4 linked regions of the Homo sapiens genome follow. The protein of the gene in region 3 interacts with the protein of the main gene of each other region in a pairwise test. Each region holds a gene or a part of one and is shown on either strand. Other genes may lie near its edges. The genes, in order: LMO3, HOXD3, NFKBID and EFHC2.

The links.
Region 1: the proteins of NFKBID (region 3) and LMO3 interact in binary tests that used the Homo sapiens proteins (3 or more experiments, as listed by UniProt).
Region 2: the proteins of NFKBID (region 3) and HOXD3 interact in binary tests that used the Homo sapiens proteins (3 or more experiments, as listed by UniProt).
Region 4: the proteins of NFKBID (region 3) and EFHC2 interact in binary tests that used the Homo sapiens proteins (3 or more experiments, as listed by UniProt).

What each region holds. Positions count from the first base shown.
Region 1 is NC_000012.12:16,596,136-16,603,169, reverse strand, and holds part of LMO3 (LIM domain only protein 3), read left to right. Parts: intron 1-2,301; coding exon of another isoform or gene 2,302-2,309; coding exon 2,310-2,515; intron 2,516-4,202; coding exon of another isoform or gene 4,203-4,275; exon of another isoform or gene 4,276-4,378; intron 4,379-7,034.
Region 2 is NC_000002.12:176,152,566-176,160,334, reverse strand, and holds the start of HOXD3 (homeobox protein Hox-D3), read right to left. Parts: upstream 3,029-7,769; 5' UTR 2,883-3,028; intron 2,868-2,882; exon of another isoform or gene 2,401-2,867; intron 1,085-2,400; exon of another isoform or gene 398-1,084; intron 1-397. Other genes in the region: HOXD4 (homeobox protein Hox-D4), read right to left, coding at 7,393-7,727. UniProt on the Homo sapiens protein: Sequence-specific transcription factor which is part of a developmental regulatory system that provides cells with specific positional identities on the anterior-posterior axis.
Region 3 is NC_000019.10:35,887,452-35,890,574, forward strand, and holds the end of NFKBID (NF-kappa-B inhibitor delta), read right to left. Parts: intron 3,040-3,123; coding exon 2,923-3,039; intron 2,604-2,922; coding exon 2,439-2,603; intron 1,162-2,438; coding exon 1,108-1,161; 3' UTR 501-1,107; downstream 1-500. UniProt on the Homo sapiens protein: Regulates the expression of IL-2, IL-6, and other cytokines through regulation on NF-kappa-B activity. Functions in the regulation of inflammatory responses.
Region 4 is NC_000023.11:44,340,639-44,348,247, reverse strand, and holds the start of EFHC2 (EF-hand domain-containing family member C2), read left to right. Parts: upstream 1-4,575; 5' UTR 4,576-4,659; coding exon 4,660-4,701; intron 4,702-7,609. UniProt on the Homo sapiens protein: Microtubule inner protein (MIP) part of the dynein-decorated doublet microtubules (DMTs) in cilia axoneme, which is required for motile cilia beating.

The sequences.
Region 1 (7,034 bases), on a different chromosome or scaffold from region 3:
AACACAACAAAAACATTTTGTGAAGACAAGTAGGGTAGTGTTACTTGTGCCAAATGTTGGTATCCCCTGTCTTGGTTGCAAAGCATTTTGAATAAAACAGCTGACCTTCTATGCTTGATGGTAGAAACACAACTGTGGGAAATATAACTTAGCTGCTACTGGGATTTTTTTTTTTTTCGATTTTTCATCTTTGAGCTTTGTGATAAATAAAAATAATAGCCTTACAAATTTAATAGAATGGCCGTTAATTAGGATGGCTTAATTAGAATGGCTTCTCTTAATATTTATTATCTAGGTGTTTTCAGTAACACCATCCAGAATTTCACTGAGTAAATCAAAACTTCCCCTTCCCCCTAGATATGTGGTTAACAGGCACTTGGATCTGTTGTTCACTGTAATTAATGGGATTCACTCCTTGTGGAACCTTGCTAGAAGAGGATAACTAGTTCTGATCAAAGAAACTTCATTTGTTAGAAGTTCTAGAGAGTGAGATTTAGCAGAGCTATCAAGGGTTATGATTAATCTACACTAGGCCCTTAGCTCCTTCAAAGGAAAGGAACAGAAAGCAGGCTATAGGGATACCACCTGCTCTTCTTACAAATCCAGCTGTTAGTCTGCAGCTCCGGTGACTACAGCTATGCTTATGATGCAGAAAGAAAGAACAGCTACTCTGCTTTATTTCCTGCCATTCCCTACACAACTCTACCAGACGAGTTATTTTCTAATGAAAGTTCAACATCCTAACAATATTTTGTGCAACTCATGTATTATTTGTAGTTAGAAAAGTTATTCCGCTCTGCGGATGCCTTGATGTCTCTTACCAGTGGGATTTTTTTTTTAAAAGGTTGTGAAAGTTGTGATGGGGGTGAAGCCTTCATCATAAGATATCAGAGGAAACTGGAGGAGGTTTAGCTGTTTTGGAGAAGGAAAATGTACAAAAGTGCAGATTATAGCTTGACATTTCTTATCCTATAATGCATGCACATTTGGTGTTTTGTATCCTTCTACATGCAAGTTTAAAACTTTATGCCTAGGAGAGCAAACATAATGCAGCAGAAGGGTCTCTGGACTGTAAGAAGGCCATTTGGCTGGAGTCTATAGCGTAACTGTCTTTCAGCTTTGAGCAAGTCTCTGAACCTCTCTTGGGCCTCGGTAACATAATTTGTAAAATGAGGGAATTTGGAATTGATGATGTCTGCAGTACTTTATAGTGCTTAAAATGAGTTATTTGATAAATATGAGGCATTGGATAGTTGGTCCAGCTTCTTGCTAAAGCTGGGTGTTTTAATACCTAGGAAATAAGAAGACACTCAAGGTGAATGTCCATTCATTCAAAAGATTTCAATCAAACTGTAAAGCCCATGGAATCCAGCTGGATTCCTTATTTATGATGGATTTATACCTTTAAAATATATAAATGTTTCTATGTTTAGCATAGTATACATATAACATGTATATATTTACTTATATATGTTTGTATAATTGTATATATATTTAGATCTTGCCTTCTATTGTTTTTTCTTTCCTTTATAAAACAAATAATTGCATGTTTATGGTAATAAATGGTATAATCATATACTTTAGGTTTACATAAAAGCATATAGTATATAGTTAAGTAATCTGCCATTAATATAGGTGCTGACTGATGCTTGTGAGTATAAATGTTATATTTGAACACAATGAATACTTTGAAATATCAAGGACATAGAAGAAGTATTTGGATGCAAGCAAGAAATATAGGATTGGTGAGCTTTTTGGGTAGCTGTTCTGTGTACTTAACTATAAACACCTCTACTGCTGAATAAGGTTAGTGTAACCCCATACCAGGTGCCCTCTCCTTCCACCATCAAGCACATATTAAGTGAAATTTTTAAACAGTTAAGCAAAACTCATTTTTTTACTTGTAGGGACTGTGCATAGATTAATTTGTTAAATAGCTTTCTTTTCAGATTGTTATTTACTCACATTTTCTTTCTAAAGGAACTGCTCTATGGGGAGAATGAAGATACTATAAAATTATTTAATGTTATTGAACTTCATATTTATAATGTCAATTTACCATGGTCAACATGAATTTATTATTATTGTCACTTGGCATGTGTAACTTTTTGAATGATTTAATAAGCACTTGATAAAGTTTGAGACTTTTTGTTTCCAAAATTGGGTTTGATTTCAGTATAGCCCTAAACAAGAAAAGCTAACACTCCTAGAATAAGGAAATATTAAATATTTAACTTGTTTGAGGTCTTTTTATTCTGTCTGGTAGTCTCAGCTCTCTTTTTTGCTTTTGTCTTCCTTTAGGTATACAAATGCTCTCAGTCCAGCCAGACACCAAGCCGAAAGGTTGTGCTGGCTGCAACCGAAAGATCAAGGACCGGTATCTTCTAAAGGCACTGGACAAATACTGGCATGAAGACTGCCTGAAGTGTGCCTGCTGTGACTGTCGCTTGGGAGAGGTGGGCTCCACCCTGTACACTAAAGCTAATCTTATCCTTTGTCGCAGAGACTATCTGAGGTAGGAATTATCCTTGCACACCAGTGATGACTGGATGCCTTTTAAAGTACTTTTGTAAGTGTATTTTTTGTTTGCTTGTTTCATTTCCTTACTGCCAGCTTATATTCCTGAAAGAAGTTACCTGTCAGCCTTCAAAGCGTTGCCCTGTGTGTGTTACTCAAATTAATGCTTAAGGAATAGCCAACAAACCACAATATTTAAAGTATTTCAATTTGGCTTGCCTGCACACTCAGGCAGTTGGTTATGGCGCTGCCTATGTTGAAACTGCCAGTTAATGTCAAGGATGTATTTGGTCGAAATCAGCATTCAGGTTGATTTACTTATTTTTTCTTTTTTTTCTTTTTTTTTTTTTTTTTTTTTTTTGGAGCTTAAGGGGGAATGGGGGTTGAGCATAACACAAAGAAATTGATCAGCCATTTGGCAAAATATCTTAACTATTTTTAAAAAGTTCAACTTGAAAAAAATGGACTGTGTAAAAGAGTTTAATTGTTGCCTCTAAGTTGGACCTGAATTTAGTCTTCTAAAGTTATTCAGCTGTCTTCTCTGTTTCAGGTGTGTCAGAGGAAGTCAGGTGCAAATCCTTGGTTAATATCTATTAGTGCATTTATTGTAGAGTTTTGAAAACTTTCCCCAAGTGTAGATACATCTTCCTCTCGCCCCACCTCATGACATTCTAAACGGGAATCTCAAAAATACAACTAAGCAATTGAACCGCCTCAGACTTGCCAGTAGTTTTATGGATAATAACAAAGTAAAGACCTCCATCATTATAGGAAAATGACAGCCACTCTCCAACCTGTAAACATCTGAATGCTTTCAGGACAAGGCAGGTGTTCTTGGTTATGGAGCTATGAAGCCTACTAAAGCTTGTTTTCCAGCATTAAGTACTCAACACAGAATTTCTGCTGAAGGAAAATTATTTTGCTTTTCAGGCAACTTTGTGACTTACTTCAGCTGCAAATTACTTATATTAATAAAGTAGGATCTATCAAATTAGAGAAATGATATATGGCATCATTGGGATTTTCATATTTAATACAATTTATCATTTTTCTGGTCTGACATTAAGCGATTTATTTGGAATTTTTTCCCTTATGACAAAATTTATCAATCAATGGTAACTCCTTTAGTACCTTGGTCATTTGATGAGGTGTTTTCTAGGGAATTTGGTCGTTCTTAGTATATAATTCAGCTATTTTCAGTCAGATCCAATCTTTAGATATAAAAATATATCATTTGATTAATGGTAGTTACAAGAGGGTGAAAGCGGTACTGTTTATCAGATTCTACTCCTTCTCGCTCTTAGGACGGCCTCATCTGACAGCCTCCTGACTAATTATGGCCACTTGTTACTACTTCTCTGTGTTCCAAGTGCGTAAAACACATGCAAGGTGCCAACAATGAGAAGTCACTCTCTCCAGCCAGGATTTCCCTCATTGTGTTGGCACAACGAATCAAAATTAATGTACAATGTTCATTTTTTTAGAACTCTCCGGTCTTTGAACTTTCCTCTTTGAAATAAAAATTTCTCTTCTGCCCATTGTGAATTAGAGCCTCATTTCCACATAAAGCATTTGTATTTGCTTTTAGTGATTTAATACTGCTTTTTAGTTTTGCTTTATCTGTACTAACCAATAGTCATAGCTTTTTGACTCCTTTTGACTTTTACATTTGTTTGTAATTTCAGTATCTCAAGTGGATTTATGTTACCATTTCAAATAAGGAGTTTATATAGCCCGGGCAATGTTAAGGTGTTTTAATAAACCAAAGGACAAAAATTAAGTAAACTTGAAAGAATGTCAACTGAAATATCTGGGGTTTTTGAAAACAAAAATAAAAATTTGCCAAGGAAATACCTATATTGTGAGTATAACATGCTTCTTAGCTGTCAACATAGCATCGAGCAAAGACAGTAATCTTAGATTTGTTTTGTTTTCTTTTTCCTTGTGGTAGTAAAAATATATTTGATAGTCTCAAGTGTTTTGCTAAAACGCATTTATCAAAAATAGTTTTCATATCAGAAGTTTTTGTATCTCTATAAGAGTGTATGTGGCTTTTTGTAGAATAACTTTCAGTTACCTCCTGATAGGCTCAAACTTTTAATGGTGGTTAACTTATTAAAAGTATATAATATTCTTTCAAATATAAACCCTGGTCCTGATTGCCAATATATTCATTTCTCAGAGTACGATTTCCGCTTAAATTGGTCATTACCACATTAATGGCCAGTTGTTATGTTAACAGCCTAACGGTTGTTAACATTTCAAACTAAGTTGTTAACAGCAATCTTGTCCCTTATTTAAACTGAAAGTTTGTTGTATATAATGTGACTTATTTGGCAACTTCATCAACACTTAAAATTGCAGAAGTGAAGTGGAGAATTGGTGTGTGTAAAACACTGTGTTACGTGTTATAGATTATGCCGCAGATGTGGTATTTAGTTTTATGTGGAAAGCATGTGTCTCAGTGAAATTGTGTAGATGTTCAACTGCATATGTCTCTGATTGGCAAATTAAAATAGTCTGATTCTGTATGGTAAATCAACAAATATAGTCAAGCAGATTTTATTTACAAATTAATTTCTTTGATTAGATACAAATAGTTGTTCAAAAATGTTTATTAAATGCTTACTGTGTGAGAGGTATGATTTCAGGCAATGGGTGAAATTAGCTAAAGGAAAAAGGAAGGTACACCTAAAGTTGCCACTATCTAATTGTTTATTTAATTACATAGAATCTGTAATATAATCAGTGAACAAGTAATATTCTGTGGTTATTTTCCTGAGCTTTAAAAGTAATTTTTCTCATTTTCCTCCAAATTCAGCATACTTCCATTTTGTATTTTATATAACCAATGTTTAATCACTTAAGTTCTATTTTAAAAGTTGTTTTATTTTTGGCCCTTTGATATTATGTAATTTCTCTGAGGCACCAAACTGAACATAAATAACTTACATATTTATATTTCATGTCTAAATTATTAAGAACATAAGTAAGAATAAGGAAAGTAATAAAATAGTAATTTGCCTGTCCACATATATTGTTGGTTACAAGTATTGTCCTGGGCCAGATAATTTTTTACATACAGTGAAAAGTAAAATATTTTTGCCAATTACATTTAGCTTCTTAATACACTTCTCCCTCCATAAACAGAAAGAAAGAAACACTCCTAATTATGAGCAATGAGACTTAAAGATCTGTGTTTTACTTGTGTTACTTTGAGTAGTGATAATGATGATGTGATTTATAAGTTCTTTGAATGATGATTTGAGATATTAAATAATATGAAAATATAATAATTTAGACTGTAAGATATTTTCTTAAGGGTTATAGAAACTATTATTATGGAAAATTTGATGTCTTTCCATTTTTTTTCTCCTTTATGGCACTAGTAGCTATATTTAAGAGAAAAAGAAAGAAAAATCTTCCATAGTTTGTACACTAAGTATCAAATCTTAACAGTGGAATTTTTCACTTTCCAGAACTGGACTGGCATATCATTCATTTAGCTGTGGAACATAAAATGTACATATCTGATGAGACAGAATTTGCCCATTTGTGGGATTGCTTTCCTCCTTTGGAAACTCATTAGCTAAAGAAAGAGAAGGACTGACTTTTTAAAACTTCCTCTAACATGTTTCTGACTGAAATTATGAAATCTACCCAGTCAATATTTATATGCCAGGCAGACCAAGAAATGTATCTGTTAAAAATCTATCCAATGCATTTATAATTATTTTTATTTTTTTGAAGAGTAACTTATGACAAATTAGATATAGAAACATCTTTGTACTTTAAGTTGGAGCTTAAAATTGATATTGTCTAAAGTAGATTAAAAATGACTGTGTAAAAATAGCAAAGTTGTAGTGATAATGTTTAAGGTACTCATCACTGCGATCTATCCGCCTTATTTCAGTTTGAAAAAATATGAATAAAGTAGCCAGCCAGTGCATAATCAGAGTCTTAGAATTAGGAATTCTACATGCTTTTATTTAATGTTTTGCAGCAAGCATTAAATAGAACTAGGAGAAATACCAAAATACTTTCTTTTTCAACTTGAAGGCAATAAAGGATGTCAGAATGTAACTGGAACTCAACTTCTGGGCAATTTTTTTGTTGTTCTTTCTTTGAACCTGCAACTTTTTGTGACGTACTTTAAGCATTAAGTCTATATAGGCTGTATGTATCTTGTATCTCTATGAATGATATCTTGCCAGAGTTTATTCAAAGCTGTTTGCTGTGGTATGTGCCATGGAAGCTGCTTATAGCTTTTCCTATATAAGAAGCTGTAAAATGTCTTATATAAAATTTAATGCAATTTGCTATTTTTATACGTGAGGATGATTTGTTTAAAATGAAACTACTGGGAAAGAGTGATGCTTCATGCTTCACCATAGTTGCTAATTAACTAAAATGATTTGAAGCTTGCTATGCTGACTACAAATTTTATAGGCTTTAATATAATAATATAATAACTCTAAAAGAGAAAATAAAAATAAATTGCCACATAGGGCATAAAT
Region 2 (7,769 bases), on a different chromosome or scaffold from region 3:
TCCGCCAGACTGGTCCGGGAGCTGGAAATTTTAGAAACTGCCTCTCTTAGAAGCGTCTCTGGAGACTGCCGTGGAGCAGCAGAGGCTGAGGGTACCCCTAGCTTCCCGGGCCCGCGGAGTACTCCGCAGCCTCATGCACCCCGGCAAGGCGGCCTCCCCGCCGCGGAGGCCGACGCCCAGCTCCTCCCAGGGCGAGGACCCGCTCCGGCCCAAAGGTGGAAGCCGCGACTCTCAGCTCTGGCCAGTCACCTCAGAAAACCCCGCCACCACCACCATTCCGTGGCTCGTTCCGCGGACTCAGCAGCCGAGTCACCGCCACTTCTGAGACAGAAAAGGCGCGTAGCAGGCGACCCGGACCCAGAGCGACCTCCCCTCTCTGATCCCTGAGCACCCCAACCTGGTCCTTCGAGGCCTGGAGCCGCCTAGGCGCTGAGCCACTGCCCGCCGTGATCTGTGCGACTCCAGGTCTGGGCAGGACCCGCAGATCCCACAGGCCCAGCAACCGCCAAGCCGCGACTTCCCGCTTCCTGCGGCGCCTCCAGGAAGGCGAGGAGGACTGCGCAATGAGTCCTGGCTGGGCTAACCTGGGGGACAATGAAACTTATATTTTAGAAATATTAAACCAAGACAGATTCCCACCACTCTCCGAGTGGCTGGTGGGAATGATTCTGCAATGTGGGAAAAAAGAATTAAGCGTGCCAGCGCCAGCAGCGGACCTCCTGGCCTGTAATGAGCGCCCAAGACCCTCCCCCAGCCGGGGCCACACTCGGGAATCCCGCACCACGGGGAACTCTCCACCCTGTCCCCGAAGTTTTGGTTTCGTTGCCAGCTCTGCTCAGCGGCATCAGGCACAGTGAAATGCTCTGTTGCTGATTGCAGGGTCTGAGACCGGTGAAAGTGCCCAGCAGCCATAGAAGAGCCCCAGAGGAGTGGGTAAGGTCCACCGCATCCCCACTCCAGAGGCGCAGGAATGTCCTGGAGGCCCGAGCCCCCAGAACCGTCTACGAGCCCATCCTTTTGTTCACCTGGCCGGGCCTGGCCAGAGGCCCACTCGGGGCGTCTCTCGAAGCCGGATCGTGGGTGACCCCAGCCCACCCCCACCCGGAGGACCCCGCCCCCTAGCCTCTTGCCAGAGGCCGACCTGACGGCCAGCAGCAAGTGTTAATCCCCAGCCAAAGAGGGGGGCTGCTTTGCGGGAATTTGTCTCCAGGAAAGGATCTAAGCCTTCTTCAATCGGAGCATATGTTCATAGAGCAATAAACCGGAAAGATTTACAGTCCTCGCCCGGCCCCCAACAGTCTCGCACCCTTTCAGGAATTACTTACGATGATTTATCACACCAACCCGGGCAATTGTCACACTGATAAAATAGCCCGGGCCAGTGCCCGCCAAGCCGGGGCCTTGGGAGGCTGTTGGCTGCCGGGCTGCCAGCAGGGCTGGGGAAGCTTTTTGTGGGTTCCTCTCTGGGCCTACAAGGGGATATCTAGGTGGGTTGGAGTGGGTTGGAGTGGGGGGGGTGGGAGGGGAGACGATTCTCATTGAGAAAAATGCAAGCAGCTCAGAGAAAGCGCCTGGAATCTGCGCCCGAGTCACTCGCAAAGCACATAAACATTTGTCATCTTTGAATAATTGAATTAATGTGTTATTGTTTGAATGTATAATTCATAATGGGGGAAACTTTGTTTCTGTCCTGACGGGGAAATATACACACACCAAAAAATAAATGAAAACACACACACACACAAACACACACGCACACATAATCCCAAAACAACCACCACGCGCAGCCAGCCCCTGCTCGCTGAAATCATTCTGAAAGCCAATGGAGGTATCTCACAGCAACAAGAGGGAAGGAGGCGAATGAAGAGGCGCCCGGGTCGGAGCTGCAAGCTGGAAGAAAAGAATGCTCGCTACTGCCCCAGCCCACGACCCTGGCAAGCTGGGGATGGGGTGGAACGGAGCGGAGTGGCTCTTAGGACACCCAATTTTCTTGGAGTGCCGGTGAAAAAAGGCAGAAACGGGAGCGAGCAGAGAAACAGCCTTCTGCAGCCCGCACTGGCCTCTCCCCCATCCTCCTTTCCCCAGGCTTCCCGTCGCCCCGGGGTCTCCCACTCGGGCTGCAGGGACTTCTTCTCGCGTTTATTTTAGCTCTTCCAAAATAGAAATAAAAAATACAAACACAAAAATAAACGGGAAAGAAGAAGAAACTCGCTGGGGTGACAGAGGCAGCAGAACTTGGGTGGGGAGAGAGGAGCGGGGGGAGAGGCAACTCGGAAATCATTATCTGTTGGTTAAAACCTGCCTGGGGTAAAATTTCAACTCGATTTTATAGCCTTCTATTATGACGCAAAGAAAAATTTACGACCCTCGCTTGAAAAGAGGGCCAGGGCCTTTTCTCACCGGTTTAAGAATAGGCGGCAGATGCCGTGACAGCGACCATTGTTCCTGGTAGACACAGGCGACCAGGCAACCTCGGCCCGCGTGCGCCAGGCGCGTCCGCCAGCCGGGCCGGTTTTTTACAACTCCTGTTGTCTTGGAGCAGCCCGCGTGCACCTCGCCCCTCACCCCTCGCCCCCTGGCACCCTAGCGCCTCGCACACACACCCTCTCCCTATCTCTGTCTCTGTCTCTGTCTCTCCCTCTCTCACACACACAAGCGCGCGCGCGGACGCACGCACACACACACACACTCGGCCGCTCTCAGTAATTTTTCATAAGTGCAAAGCTTTGCTGAACCAAAGGTCACCATCCAAGCCACTAACAACTTCTCGCCGGCGCGCAGTTCCAAATCAGGAAGCAAAGGGAACTATTTGTCAGCGGCCGTGACAGCTAAGTTCATTAAGGATTTAAATCTGATGAAATAAAAGTTGCCAAAATATTTACCTGCGGCCGCGCTCCCGCGCCCGCCGGGGGCCGGGGGTGGAGGGCCGGGGGCACCGCGCGGCCCCCCTGGACGGGTGATATTCTTGGGATCCCTGCACTTTCCAAGTCGGAGAGAGCCCTTTGCGTGGCAGATTAATGACGACTCCGTGTTTCTTAAGGGACGTGCTGAATTAATTATTTCGCCAATCACGTGGTCGGGACTTGTAGAAATCTATTCTTATCATCTTCCTCGCACTTAGAAAATTCTCCGGGTTATGAAAGGCCCTCCCCCGGCTGCCAGCGAGCCCCGGCCGCCCAGCCCGGCGCGGGGGGCAGGGAGGGCTCCCCAACATGGCGGGCAGGCGGGCGGGAAGCGCCGTCCGCCGAGGGTCCCGATTTACTGTACTCTATACTCAGCGGGCTCTGCTATGGACTCGCTTCCTCCTCATCCCTGCCCGCGATTCAATACACACAACGGTATTGATGTATTGGTGGGCACGGGAGGAGCCATTAAGCAGAAGACGGGCAGAGGACAATCATAAAATGTGTCTGAATATTTAAACTTCTGCCTGCGCACTTATAAATACACATGTCCACGCGTCTGGGGCAAGCCCTTCCATATATTAAGGACAGATGTCTGATTTTATGCATTCTGCTCATTTCCTGTCTGGAACAAGCACCCCCATCTATTTTGGGACTCCTGTCTTGGCCCCTTCTTCAAGGCGAGGCCAAGATGTAAAGAAGCCCTTGCGGTAAATGTAGTGCAGGGCACTTTTTATAGTGGGGAGTGTTTATTGTTGCCTGAGGGGTGGAGGGGGCGCGGAAGAAGGAGGGGCAGGTGCTGGAGTCCCCACAGGAGCTTAACAGTACTGGAAAAGTAGAAGCCCAAGAGTGGAGGCCCGGGGGTCAGGTCAGAGCAGCCACCCAGGAGCCTCAGCTCGGCCCAGAACCCAGCACGCTCTCCCTGCCTTAGGGGTGGGGGACCAGTAAGGTGTCTCATCCACCACTTCCCAAAGACTTCCTCTGAGGGCTTCCAGACCAAAAAGGTCTGGGGCCTGGCCCGGGCCCAGCAGAATGCCAACCTGGATCCCCCTATTAACCTGGGCAATTACTTTTTCTTCAAAAAATTAACACCCAACACTCTGTACCCTGAATTCAACCCCAGGCTTCCCAATGCTCACAAAATATGGTGGCCAACTGGGAGTGTGTGTACATTAAGGAGGTGGTAATAATAGAATTGCTAAGCCTTACATGGTTTAACCTTCACACTTTAGGCACCCCCCAAAAAATGGTGCCTAATTTATTGCAGAAAATAATAACTTGTTTATGTTAAATGTTAGCTTTTAGAAGACTTAACAAAGGATGAATGCTTCTGTTAAGGCACCAAACAGGAGGGAGATTTTGCTACACCTTTTATTATTTTAAATATAGATCAATGAATTACATCAAAACTACAAGCAACAATTAGTATAAATAATACTTTAATCAGTGGCAGCAAAACATTGGTCAATTCTATTAAAAAAGCATCTCGTGTGAACAGACATCATGGGCTGACTGACAGTGTCATCTCCCAACAAAAGGCTGCGATGGACAAAGTGAGATGGGAGTCAGAGGAGCAATGTCCTCAGCAAACACTTCACTCTCCCCCTCCCCCAGTCAGGACCCCAACACGGTTTTTGTTTTTGTTTTTAAAACACCAACACAAACACTTCTGGCTCATATTTAAAGGAACAAACTGGAAACAAATAATAGCAAATGGGCATTGGAGCTTTTCCACACCTAGCTTTCTCCAAAGCACGTTCTCAGATGGAAACCCATTTCCTTCCCTGCCCTAAGTGGTTACGGGGCCCTACCCCTTCCCTGGCCCACTCCTGTGGGCCCAAATGGATGCTGGGGTCCGACTGGGACCTCAGGGTTGGGGGCTGCACTCTGGGCCATCCAGGCTCCATTAACATTTCAAAAGAATCCCTCCAAGCTGAGAAGGAGAGCTGAGACTTATAAACAAAGAAGTTGTTTCTCTGATTAAGTTACTTTCCAAAGTAGTGGGGCTATGTTTGAGAAGGAGCTTGGGTTTTCCTCATGAAAACATGTTTCTTGGCTTTCCTCTGGGGCAGGGATGCAGTCAGTTAAGCCTGTGTGGCATTTGGTATGAAACTGGGGGTGAGTAACCTGAACTTCTGAGGTGGGGGAAAATCTATACAACAAATCTCTATTATATATATGTAATTGGATGTTGTGAAAATATATACCTTTTTCCCCTTCTCAAAGAGAAGGTTCAATGTATAGACAGATTTGGGTTTTAGGAAAGCAGCTTAGCAACTTTCCAACTTGCCTAAGGATAGCGGCTCCTTTCAAATGGTACATCCAAAGACTGCTCTCCATGTTAGAGAGGAAAAAAGAAGAGAAGGGTAGTTAGAGTCCAAAAGGTTAGGGGTTTAGAGGTCAGTCCTCCCGGCTGAAATACAGCTAATCAAATAGAAAATTTGTCCTCTGGATGAACCTGATTCTGTAATTTACCCGAACTTCGGTAAAATACCTTTTCAGCTTCTCAACGTGAGGGCGTCAGAAAAAAGACGTCTTGACTATGTATGAACTCTGTGCTTTTTGTCATAGAAACAATGATGTGAATAATGCACGAATATCCATCTTTAATATCCCGACGTGGTGACATTCAAGTATTGCCATGTGCAAGTCTGAGAGCCAGGCTCACCCCAAGGAGAAACAAAGAGCAGTCCCCAGGGTCTAATACAAAAGACCAAGGCTTGGAAGACACTTCAGAGAAGCGGAATTTCAGCCTAGGGACTGCAGTGAATACCTGCCCTCAGCTCTCAGGAGACACAGCCAAAGAACAAGCCTACAGAGAAACTCTTTTTTCCCTCCCACTTAAATATATTTTTTAAATTACAACAGAAACCTTCTAAAGTGTTTTTGAAGTACTGAAAAAAATACCCCCCTTCTGGATCTTAAAATTAAATTTTAAGCTTATCCTTTCTCCCTTTCCCACTTTGGTCACTTTTTGATAGCTACAACCTTTTTTGGAGCCTGAGGCCTTGGGAAGACTGGTTTCATCTGAGTATATGAACTCTGGCCATTAACTTTGACTTCTTCCTCCTTATGCTTGAGGGTCAGCATTTTAGAAAAATGAACTTTGAACCCTTCCCAGGAGAGGCAGAAGAAAAACGACTAGAGGACATCTCCCCTGTTGAGAGTGATTCTTTAAAAAACCACTATTCTCAAGGCAAAGACGAGTGCTTGAAAACTTTTATACTTTTACAAATTCTGCTTCTAATTAATGAGCTGAGGAAAACTTCCTTAGATTTGGTTTTTAAAAAAATTAAAACTTCAGGGGGAAAAAAACTCTAAGGCTAACTTTTGTGGACTTCTAGATTCAATTAGGGTTTTTTTTTTTTCCTTCTTAAAGCAAGAGTTCCTCACCTTCCCACTTTCTCCCCACTGCACAGCCCCTCCCCTACACAGGCCATACACTAATTCCTGTAAAACACTGCTATATGAGGGTATTTAGGGCATTTGGAATCCAGTTGGAACAGAAAATTCAGTCATTATCTAATGACCCAGTGCATAGAGGTTTTGTTTTCTTTCCCCAGAAGGAAAATGTTGGACCATTTGTTGGTTTTTTTCCCTTTCCTTTAATCACCCAGAACTGGTTGTAAGCACAGTGCTGAAAAAAACACATGTGGAAATATATTTTCAAGAATGCAACTTTGAGTGAATCCTTTGCTTCCTTCTGGAAGGGTTAAGGCCCCCCTATATACATTTCCAGAGAGTGGGGAGGGGTGGAGTTCAGAAGTAAGTGCACATATCTCTGATTCTGCTCCCTGAAGTTCAGCCCCTTTCACCTTTTTAAGATTTTTGGCATGAAGGTGTCAGTTATTTCTGTACCACATTTCCCAACAAATAAATATTTAAGCAAATATCTAAACATAAAATAACCCATTTTTACTTCCTTCTTAGACCCATTTCTTTGGAGGTGGGGCCACTGGGAGCAAAATATATATTTTTTAATCACATGAAATTCCATAGACAACCCAGAAAGTCCAGAAATCCTGACCCAGCTCTCTGGCTTCCACTGAAAGCACCTAGCACAGGGGTGGCCAACCTTCTGCCTCAACTCCCCCACATTATTAAGCCACAAAGCACCCTGGAGGGGTGGAGTGGGGGAGAATGTCCAAATTCACAGTGGGATAAAGCATCCAACCTTCATTTGCAAATTCAAAATCCAAGAGCGGTGATTTTCATAAGTTTAATGACTCGCCAAGATTTTATGTTCTCAGTAGCTCCTGCCATATAATATACTTAGAGAGAGAATCCCGCCCCCCCTCCCATCCCCATCCCGCTCTAGGGAGGGGGCTGCCCTCGGGCAGGATGCTAACCTAGTCCGAGGGCGGCCTGCTTGTCCCAGGTCCACCCCACAGTACCTTAGAGCCCAGCGAGGTGACAGCAGGCCCGGCCTGCCCCCGCAGCTTCGGCTCAGCCTGGTGCGCAGGGAGAGATGGGCCCAGGGTCCCCACTTCTATAAGGTCGTCAGGTCCGTGTGGTGGTCTTTGGCCATCGGCTGTAAATGCTGGCTGGGGGCGACTGAGGAGGAGCAAGATGAGGAGGAAGATGAGGACGATGACCTGCCTTTAGTGTTGGGCAGCTTATGATCTTTTTTCCACTTCATCCTCCGGTTCTGGAACCAGATCTTGATCTGGCGCTCCGACAGACACAGGGTGTGAGCGATTTCAATCCGACGGCGCCTTGTCAGATACCTGTTAAAATGAAATTCTTTTTCCAGTTCTAGGACTTGCTGCCGGGTGTAGGCCGTTCGGGACCGCTTGGGTTCCCCACCGGTGTAGTTGGGGTTCACTGCGAGACAAAACAGACAGGACAGGCAGGTCAGCGCCCGGC
Region 3 (3,123 bases):
GCCTCCTAAAGGCCAGTCCCTCTTGTGTCGCCAGGGTGAGGGTGACAGGATATGGACTTGGCACCCATGGTGGCTGCTACATCCTCCCCCCTCAGGCACATTCATCCCAATATGACCCCTCAGCGGGCATCACAGCCACTCCCCTGCACCAGTGCCCCCAGAGATCAGACAACAGTGGTTCTAGTCCAAATTGAGTTTAAATTTTTTTTTTTTTTTTTTTTTGAGACAGAGTCTCTCTTTGTCACCTAGGCTGGAGTGCAGTGGCACAATCTCGGCTCACTGCAACCTCCGCCTCCTGGGTTCAATCAATTCTTCTGCCTCAGCCTCCCAAGTAGCTGGGACTACAGGCGCATGCCACCATGTCCAGCCAATTGTTTTTGTATTTTTAGTGGAGACAGGGTTTCACCATGTTGGCCAGGCTGGTCTCAAACTCCTCACCTCAAGTGATCCGCCCGCCTCGGCCTCCCAGAGTGTTAGGATTACAGGCATGAGCCACCAAATCTGGCCCAAATTGAGTTTAATAAAGAGCTTGAGTGATGCTCAGATTAGGGAGGGAGTGACCGGGAATGCTGGGGTCTGGAACTGGGGGCCCAGCTGAGCTCTGAATCAGAGAGCAGTGAGACCTAAGGGTCCCTGATCTCAGAGGGTCCCTCCTGTCTCAGGGTGAGGACCTGAAGGGTGTGGGTCCCGGGGAGGGTGAGGAGGCCATTGTAGGAGATTTACTGAGATGGTATCGGGATGCCCCAAGCACCACGTAGGGGGATTACATCTGGGTTTCTGGGAACGAAGAGCTGAGTTAGGGGAGAGAACCCGAAAGATCTCAGTGGGGAAAGGACTAGGGGTGCAGGGTGTTTCACAGAAACAATCAAGGGGCCTCGATTTCACAGAAATCATCAAGAGGGCTCCTTGTGGGTAGAAGAGGGGTATCACAGCACCCCAAATATTGGGGCCTGTTCACCCCTCTGCAGCCATTCTGGGGTTTTAATGTAAAACCCCAATGGCAGGATATTCCACATACATTATCATGGGTTTGCAACATTAGCATACGCTGGCTGTCCCGCAGGACGGTGGGGACTGGAAAATCAGTCCAGGGTCTGGGTTTGAGTCCTAAGAGGACAGGCCTGGCGGCGCCACACGGCTCCTCTTCAACAGCTGCCGGAGCTGTAGACAAGGCAAAGGAGGGAGAGAAGTCTGTCAGGTTGGAAGGAGAGGTGGGGAAGGCACGCCATGCAGAGGGAGGGGCTAGAGAAGAGAGGTTGAGTGGGTCCCTTTGGATTTGAAGATCAGAGGTCCAGAGTCAAGATTTTGGAAGAGCCAGGTGCAGTGGCTCACGCCTGTAATCCCAGCACTTTGTGGGGCTAAGGTGGGCAAATCACCTGAGGTCAGGAGTTCAAGACCAGCCCAGCCAACATGGCGAAACCCCGCCTCTACCAGAGATACAAAAATTAGCCGGGCATGGTGGCACGTGTGCCTTTAGTCCCAGCTTGGGAGGCTGAGGTGGGAGAATCACTTGAACCTGGGAGGTGGAGCTTGCGGTGAGCTAAAATTGCACCACTGCACTCCAGCCTGGGTGACAAAGCAAGACTCCGCCTCCAAAAAAAAAAAAAAGATTTGGGAAGGAGGCCGGGAGTGATGGTTCCTGTGATCCCAACACTTTGGGAGGCCAAGGCGGGAGGATCAATTGAGGCCAGGAGTTTGAGATCAACCTGGACAACATAGTGTGACCCCATCTCTTAAAAAAAAAAAAAAACAAAATTAGCTGGGTGTGGTGGTGACTGCCTGTAGTACCAGCTACTGGAGAGGCTGAGGTGGGAGGATCCCTTGAGCCCAGGAGCTCGAGGCTGCAGTGAGCTATGATCATGCCACTGCACTCCAGCCTAGGCAACAGAGCAAGACGCTGCCTCAAAATAAATAAATAAACAAACAAACAAATAAAAATAAAGATGTGGGAAGAAGGTCAAGGCCTGGGTTCGTACACTGAGAAAGGGTCAGGAAGCAGAACTTCAGTGAAGGGAAAGGGGCTGCTGGCTGGGGGTTCCCACCTGGGGGTGAGGAATGAGAGGGAATTGAAGGGAACAGGTAAGAGGTCAAAGGTCACATCTGAGGTCAGGACCCAAGGTTAGGGGCAGGGGGTAGGAGGTCACACTTGGGGGGATCAAAGGTCACACCTTGAGGTCAAGCAAGATTCAGGGTTGGAAGTACAGGTCACACTGTGAGGTCAGGGTTGGGGTAGAGATCAGAGAAGTCACCATTCTGGGGTAAAGGATGAAACACTGAGGTCAGAGGTCACATTATAGAGTCAGGGTTGCCTGAGGGCTGAAGTCACCTTCCGAGATTAGAAGTCATTCTCTGAAAGCGAGCATTGGGTGGGGCAGGGAGGTCATCCCGCGCCCGCGAGCTCAGAGGCCACTCTACAGGCAGGCTCAGTGCTTACTTACCCCCTCAGGGCCCGGCCCGGGCCGCAGCAGGTGAACGGGCTGCTCATTCTCCAGGTTGCGCAGTGTGGGGTCCGCCCCAGCTGCCAACAGGTGCCGCACGATGGCCTCCTGGGCCGGCCCAGGGGGCAGGGCAGCCGCCATGTGGAGGGCTGTGTTCCCGTGGGCCTGGAAAAGTAAGGGGAGGGCTGGTGGGGATCTGGGCTCAGCTGGCCCAGGCCTCTAAACTGCACTTCAATTTCTGCCTTGTCTACGTCCTACACTTGTCCTTTCACATCCCAGACCTCCCCCGGCCACAGCCACGCTGCATGCATCCCTGTGTCCACGGACTACATGTTCTGGGGCAATCTGTGTCTGCTTCCTATACTTTCCCCTGCAGATCCCACACATCGTCCCCTCCACGTCCACAGCCCCCAGGACCCCTAACATCCCACTGCCCCCCCTACCGTACCCCACACAATCTGCACTTCCCAGCCCCAGCTCCCACCTTCATGTTGACAAAGGTCCGCAGGTCTCCCCGGGGCAGCTCCAGCAGCAGCTGAACCAGAGTGGGGTTGGCAGCCTGCACGGCCAAGTGCAGAACTGTCTTGTTGCTCTTGATCTCCTGAGGGGAAGGGAATGGCAGAGGTCAGGGCCAGCCTCACACCTAGGTGCCCTCCCACAGAATCCAGGAGTCTTTAAAGACCCT
Region 4 (7,609 bases), on a different chromosome or scaffold from region 3:
ACAGAAACTTGGCACATTTCACCTTAGCCCAGTGATCAAAGAGAACCTCATCATTGATGGTAAAAGCACATTATGTGCCTGTTCCTTTGATGAACTAGAAGGACACAACAGTCCTCCTGTGGCGTTCTTGTCCAAAAGCCATAAACTGAATCTCCTCATGAGGAAACATCAGTCACACCTAAATTGAAGAACATTCTACCAAATACTTGGCCTAGGCTTTTTTCTTTTCTTTTTCTTTTTCTTTTTTTTTTGAGATGGAGTCTCACTCTGTCGCCCAGGCTGGAGTGCAATGGCATGATCTTGGCTCACTGCAACCTGTACCTCCCAGGTTTAAGCGATTCTCCTGCCTCAGCCTCCTGAGTAGCTGGGATTAAAGGCACCTGCCACCACGCCCGGCTAATTTTTGTATTTTAGTAGAGATGGTGTTTCGCCATGTTGGCCAGGCTAGTCTCGAAGTCCTGGCCTCAAGTGATCCGCCCGCCTCGGCCTCCCAAAGTGCTGGGATTGCAGGCGTGAGCCACCACGCCTAGCCATGGCCTATCCTTTTCAAAAATATCAAGGTCACAAAAGACGAAGAAAGATGGAAGAACTGTTCCCAATTAAAGGAGAATAAAGAGACATGACAACCACGAGACATGACAATCAAACACCATGTGTGTTGTTGCATCAGATTCTGGGTCAAAACAAATTATTTTTCTTTTTGCTAAAAAAGGACATTATAGGCCAGATGTGGTGGCTCATGCCTGTAATCCCAGCACTTTGGGAGGCCAAGGCAGGAAGATTGCTTGGAGCCAGTAGTTTGAGACCAGCCTGAACAACATAGTGAGACCCTTGTCTCAACAAAGAAAAAAAAATTAGCCGGGCATGGTGGTGTGTGCCTGTATTCCCAACTACTAGGGAGGCTGAGGTGGGAGGATCGCTTGAGCCCAAGAGGTAGAAACTGCAGTGAGCCGTGATTGCACCTGGGTGACACAGCAAGTCCCTGTCTGCAAAAAAAAAAAAAAAAAAAGGACATTATTGGTACAATTGCAAAATTTGAATATGTATTTTAGATTAGAAAATAGTATTATAAGGCCGAGATGGGATTGCTTGAGGTCAGGAGTTCGAGGCCAGGCTGGGCAACATAATGAGACCCCATGTCTACAAAAAATAAAACAAATTAAAATAGCTGGGCATGGTGGCACATGCCTGTAGTCCCAACGACTTGGGAGGCTGAGGTGGGAGGATCACTTGAGCTCAGGAGGTGGAGGCTGCAGTGAGTCATGATCATGCCACTGCATTCTAGCCTGGGCAACATTGTGAGACCTTGTCTCAGAAAAAAGAAAACAGTATTGTATTAATATTAAATTTCTGATTTTGATTATTGCACTTCAGTTATATAAGAGACTGTCCTTATTCTTAGGAAATACACACTGAAGTATTTAGGAGTCAAGGGGCATGATATCTGCAACTTAACTCTAAAATGTAAAAGATATATATGGGGAGAATGACAAAATTAATGTGGTAAAATATAAAACAATTGGGGAATCTGAGGAAAGGATAAATGAGAGTTATTTGGACTGTTCTTGCAACTTTTTACTAGCTTGAAATTATTTCAATTTAAAAAGCAACAGGGAATTTTAAAAATGTTTGTAAGAACATGTAGGAGAATAACTGTTCTTTTGGAGTAGTATAAGATTTTTGAATTCACATACAAAACACCAAACAGGCCAGGTGCAGTGGCTCATGCCTGCAATCCCAGCACTTTGGGAGGCCAAGGTGGGTGGATCACTTGAGGCCAGGAGTTCGAGACCAGCCTGGCCAACAAGGTGAAACCCCGTCTCTACTAAAAATACAAAAATTAGCCAGGTGTGGTGGTGCATGCCTGTAATCCCAGCTACTCAGGAGGCTGAGGCAGGAGAATCACTTGAATCCAGGAGGCGGAGGTTGCAGTGAGCCTAGATCACATCATTGTACTCCAGTCTAGGTGAGAGAGTGAGATTCCATCTCAAAAAATAAAAAGTAGAATAAATCAAAAAACCCACCAACCATAACTGAAAGAATGATATATTTGAGTAAAGTAACAAATTTATGTACAATAAAGAACTCTATATAAGTGGAGTTAAAAGACAAACGACAATGAGAAAATATTTGCTATGCCTCGGATTAGTATCCAGAATATCTCTATATCTATCTATCTATCTAAAAAAAAAAAACTACAAATGACCGAAGAGAAAAATCTGCAAAGGATATGAATAGCTGAGTCACAGGAGAAAGTAACAACCATGGGAAAACATGACCAACTGCTTAGGGAGAATTAGGGAGAAACAAATTAAAATAACAATAGTATACCATTCACACTTATTCAGATGATTATCCAAAATTATATAATTTGGTAATACCTATTGTTGAAAGGATGAACGGGGAAGGGGACTTTCTTAATTGGTTTATCTGTCTGTAGATCATCTAGCAAAATCTAGTAAAGATGAAGCCATGCACTCAGATATGTACGTAATTCCATCTTTCAGTATGTGCCCTAGATCATTGCCAAAGGAACAGGCAGAGTCGCTCACTGCAGCATTGTTGGTAACTAGTGGAAAATTGGAAACAATCTAATTGTCATCAACAGATGAGAGCAGATAGTTAAACAATTTGTGGTATAATCATACAATGCGTTTAAAATTAATGAACACTACATGTGTCAATGTGTAGAAATCTCAATAACAGAATTTTATTATTATTATTTTCAAGACAGAGTCTTGCTCTGTTGCCCAGGCTGGAGTGCAGTGGAGCAATCTCAGCTCACTGCAACCTCAGCCTCCCCGGTTCAAACGATTCTCCTGCCTCAGCCTCCCAGTAGCATATTAATATTCTACTAATATTTTTAGTAGAAACGGGGTTTCACTATGTTGGCCAGGCTGGTCTCGACCTCCTGACCTCTTGATCCGCCTGCCTCGGCCTCCCAAAGTGCTGGGATTACAGGCATGAGCCACCGCGCCTGGCCTCAATAACAGAATCAGGCAAAAAAAGCAAGTAGCAGAAATTTAGAGTGTAAAATTTATAAACACAGAAGCAATAATGGATATTGTTGATGAATAAAAAAGGAGATACAGTCCCTGCCCTGGAGGTATTTGGGGGCATTTAAAGAAATGTCAAGTAAACAGGTAATTACAATGTAGTAGGATGAAAGCCACGATCAGAATAGACACCAAATACAGATGGAGGCGGCAGGAAGAAGGTGAAAGAATATATTGAAGAAATGGCAATACCTTCTATGCCCCACTCCCACGCTGGCCTCAAGTCCTGAAAGACAAGAAGGGGTTACTTATGTGAAAGATAGGAAGGAAGGGTGTTTCTAGACGATAGTGTTATTTGCAAAAGCCCCAAGAGGAGAAACCGCAGAGCCTGATTTAGAAACTGCCAGTGGTTTCTCAGAGCTGGAGTAGATGGAGGAGGGGGCAAAGAAAGGGATGGAGGGCATTGGTAGGTGCCCTCTGACAAAAGCTCCTCAGACCAGGCTATAAGGAGTTTCACCACCTTCTGAAGGCGGCGGGAAGGCTAGATTATTGAAGCAGAAGAGTAACAGCTGCACCATGAATTATAAAAACGACGGCTCTGGAGGCAAGATCAGTTAGTTTTTTGTGTGTGTTTGTTTTTCTTTTTAAAGAAGAAAACCAGGCAAGAAACAATGGGATCGCAGCTGAAATAGACGAGGTGGTGACTGAGAGAGAGCATCGAGTCCAACCTTTAGGGCTTCAGGGAGGGATTAGACGTAGGTGTCGGGAGAGGAGGTTCCTGGCCCGGCTATCTTGGGGTGAACGATGGAGTGACAGGGGTTGCGATTTGTGACACCTGACTCCGCCCCGGCCACCCCTGATTGGGCCTTACAAACGTTTAGTTCAAATACAAAAATGGGCCGGACACGGTGGCTCATACCTGTAATCCCAGCACTTTGGGAGGCAGAGGCGGGAGGGCTGCTTGAGCCCAGGAGTTCGAGATCGGCCTGGGCAACATAGTGAGACCTTGTCTTAAAACAACAAACAAACAAACAAACAACAAATATAAAAATATCCAGAAGAAAAACTGAAGGCGGTGGTTACCATTACAACGCGTTTTCGTCAGGGTATATGTGGCTTTAGATTCATCTTGAACGTTTTAATTACAAAATAAAAGCTGATGTCTATGCAACATAGGAAAATATCGACTTGTGTAACATCTCAGTGAGCACACGGGCGTCATATTACTTTCTGTACTTTGCTGTGTGTTTGAACCACATAGCAAAAAACTGTTGGCGACAAGAATTGGAAAAGCAAGAAAGTACAAGAAAGGCTTTGAGTTCTATAAGGGGGTTAAACCAGAAAGCGGCGGGGGCAGGGAACAGTCAATCTTTGTGTGTGCACACTGCGTGTGCAGAGAGAAGACTCCTCAGGAGACCAGGACCTGGCTGAGTGTGTGCGGGGATGAAGCGGGTGGAGGGGAACTGGGGCTGGGGAGGAGGTACGCGCCGCGGAGGTGTCCCCCGCCCCCCACGATCCTTCTCGCCAACCCCCCGCCCCTCCTCCCTCCGTGACGCCGCTTCCCGTCTCCAGGCAACGTGGGGGCCAAACAACACGGCCGGGAGGCGCCGCTGCCTGCCGGGCCCTCTCTTCTGGGACCCTGGATTTTCGGACACTGAGCGCCATGGCCCTGCCTCTGCTGCCGGGCAACAGCTTCAACCGCAACGTGAGTAGGAAGGGCGTCCGAGGTCACAGCTCCCGGCTGGAGTCTGGGGTCCAGGCAGGGTCGTGGCGTGGCCACCTCCGCAGACTCTCCTGGAGGCCCCATGCTGCTGCCCTGGGTTGGTGGCAACTTGGACCAAACTTTATAGGCTGCTTCTCCCATCTCTCCAGCTGCATCTGAATGTTTTTCCTAATTTAGAAATATATAGAGAGAGTCCTTATAGGTGGCAGGACCCTCAAAGGTAACAAATAATAGTGACGATAACCATTGGGGGTTTAATGTGTGCCAGGCGCTGTGCTTTAATCACCTTATGCAGCATCCAGTGTCCCAACAGCCCTTTGAATTAGGTAGTTTTTATTCCCAGTTACTATTGAGGAAACTGAGGCACAGAACCACACAGTCTCAGTGGTGAAGCTGGGTTTCTTTCAAGCAACCTTGTCTCCACAGCTCAGGAGCCTAATCATTATCCCCAGTATCCTGTGTGAAAAAAGATACCGTTTCAATTATCAAATTGAAGAAATCTGGCACTTATCAAGAGGGGTAGGTGGCAGATAAGAGTTCTATCAGCCTGTAAAGTTTACTCCCAAACTTTATAGAGACAGGCACCCAAACTTGGAGGGATTTTTTTTTTCTCTATTTATAATTGGGAGGGGTTCATTTCTTTTTTTTTTTTTGAGACGGAGTCTCGCTCTGTCGCCCAGGCTGGAGTGCAGTGACCCGATCTCGGCTCACTGCAACCTCCACCTCCCAGGTTCAAGCGATTCTCCTGCCTCAGCCTCCCGAGTAGCTGGGATTACAGGCGCCCGCCACCACACCGGCTAATTTTTGTATTTTTAGTAAAGATGGGGTTTCACCATGTTGGCCAGGCTGGCCTCGGACTCCTGACCTCAAGTGATCTGCCCGCCTCGGTCTCCCAAAGTGCTGGGATTACAGGCTGAGCCACTGCGCCTGTCCTGGAGGGGTTCATTTCAAAAGAAGATGAACGTACAGAACAAAGCAACACAACACAAAAAACCCTGAGCATGAAAGAACTTTTGCCAATAAATAGCACCTCATTTAAACGACAGCAGGAAAATGATTCAGGCTTTTGTTTATACTGGTTACTACCCTTCACTTGGGTCAGCCATCTGTGTCTGCAGGAGAAGCTAATTCCCAATTAGATGGGAGGGAATTAGATGGAGCCACTCAAGGCAATTGTGTAAACCTTTGATAACTTTAGAAAGCAGGCAGCAGATTGAAGTATTTGGCTTTATGGTTTCCAAACACTGTCTGTATCTAAGTTGTTGGCCCTGAAGTACAAGTTTTTTCTTTGTAGCTTCACGCCATTGAATTCTGACCCCTACACGTCTGGTCAGTCCAACTTTGAACACTGATTTGTGCATTTCTTGGTTGATGGGCAGAGGCTGGCCTTCCAGCATAGCATTGCCCTTTGGTAAGTTTAAGCCAGTCACGCAAACAAGAAAGGCCCCTGAGAGACGGGACATGAAAACAGATTCCAGAAGTAAAGAAGCATGCTGTGTAAAAGTAATTTTAATAAAAAATGAAAGTAAAGCCTACAGCTTTTTGCCCAGCAACACTCTGATTACCAGTGCCTGCCTCCTGCAGAAGTATCATAGCTCTCACGTGCAGTGATTAAGGATGGGAAGGAAAAACAGTGGATGGATGAAATATTAATAAATCTGCAAGGTTCTGCGTATATTTTTGCTTTTTAAAAAACTTTAAGATCATGAAGTACAACACATATACAGAAAGATGCACAATGGATGATCACAAAATGAATATCAAGAAATTAAATATGGGGGCTGGGCGCAGTGGCTCACGCCTGTAATCCCAGCACTTTGGGAAGCAGAGATGGGAGGATCCCTTGAGCCCAGGAGTTCGAGACCAGCCTGGGCAATATAGTAAGACCTCATCTCTACAAAAGATTGAAAAAATTAGCCAAGCGTGGTGGCACATGCCTGTAGTCCCAGCTACTCAGGAGGCTGAGGTGGGAGAATCATTTGAGCCTGGGAGGTCGAGGCTGCAGTGAGCCATGATTGCATTACTGCACTCCAGCCTGGGCAACAGAGCCAGACCCTGTCTCAAAAAAATAAATAAAATAAAATATGACCTGTTCTCCAAAAATACCACCCTTGACTGGGGTTGCCAGATTTAGCGAATAAAAATACATATCTCAAATACTGCATGGAACCTGTTTATGGGAAAGGATTATTTATTGTTTACCAAATTTAACTGAGAATCTTGTATTTTATGTGACAACTCTACCTATGAACCTTTCTGTTCATTACCCCATCTCTACTCTCCAGATATAACCACTGTTCTGGCTCCTATCACTATAATTAGGTTTTGCTTGCCTTTGAACCTTTTATCAATGGAAATGTTTGGTGTTTATTCTTTTGTGACTGGCTTTTTTAGCTCAACAGTATGTTCGTTAGATTTGTCCATGTGGCTGTCTATAGAGGTAGTTTGTACATTTTTATTACTCTGTAGTATTGCATTGTATGTTTTTCACATCATTTATATATACATTTTACTCTTGATAAATATTTGGCTTGTTTGGGGTTGTTAAGAATAGTTTTACTGTGACTATTTTTGTTCATGTTTTTTGGTAGGATTGCTAGATCATACAGTATTCGTATGTTCAGCTGTAGTAGATGCTGTCAAAGTGATTATACTACTTAAATTCCCAACAGCATTTTATGTTCCTGTTGCTCCACATTCTTTCTAACACTTGGTATTGTTAGTCTTTTAAATTTTAGATATTTTGGTTGGTGGGTATAGCAACTCTTTGTAGTTATAATCTGTACTTCCTGATTCCTAATGAAATTGAGCATGTTTTACACGTTTGTTGGTCATTTGTATGACCATTTATTGGTCACTGCTTTTTTTTTTAGACGGAGTCTTGCTCTGT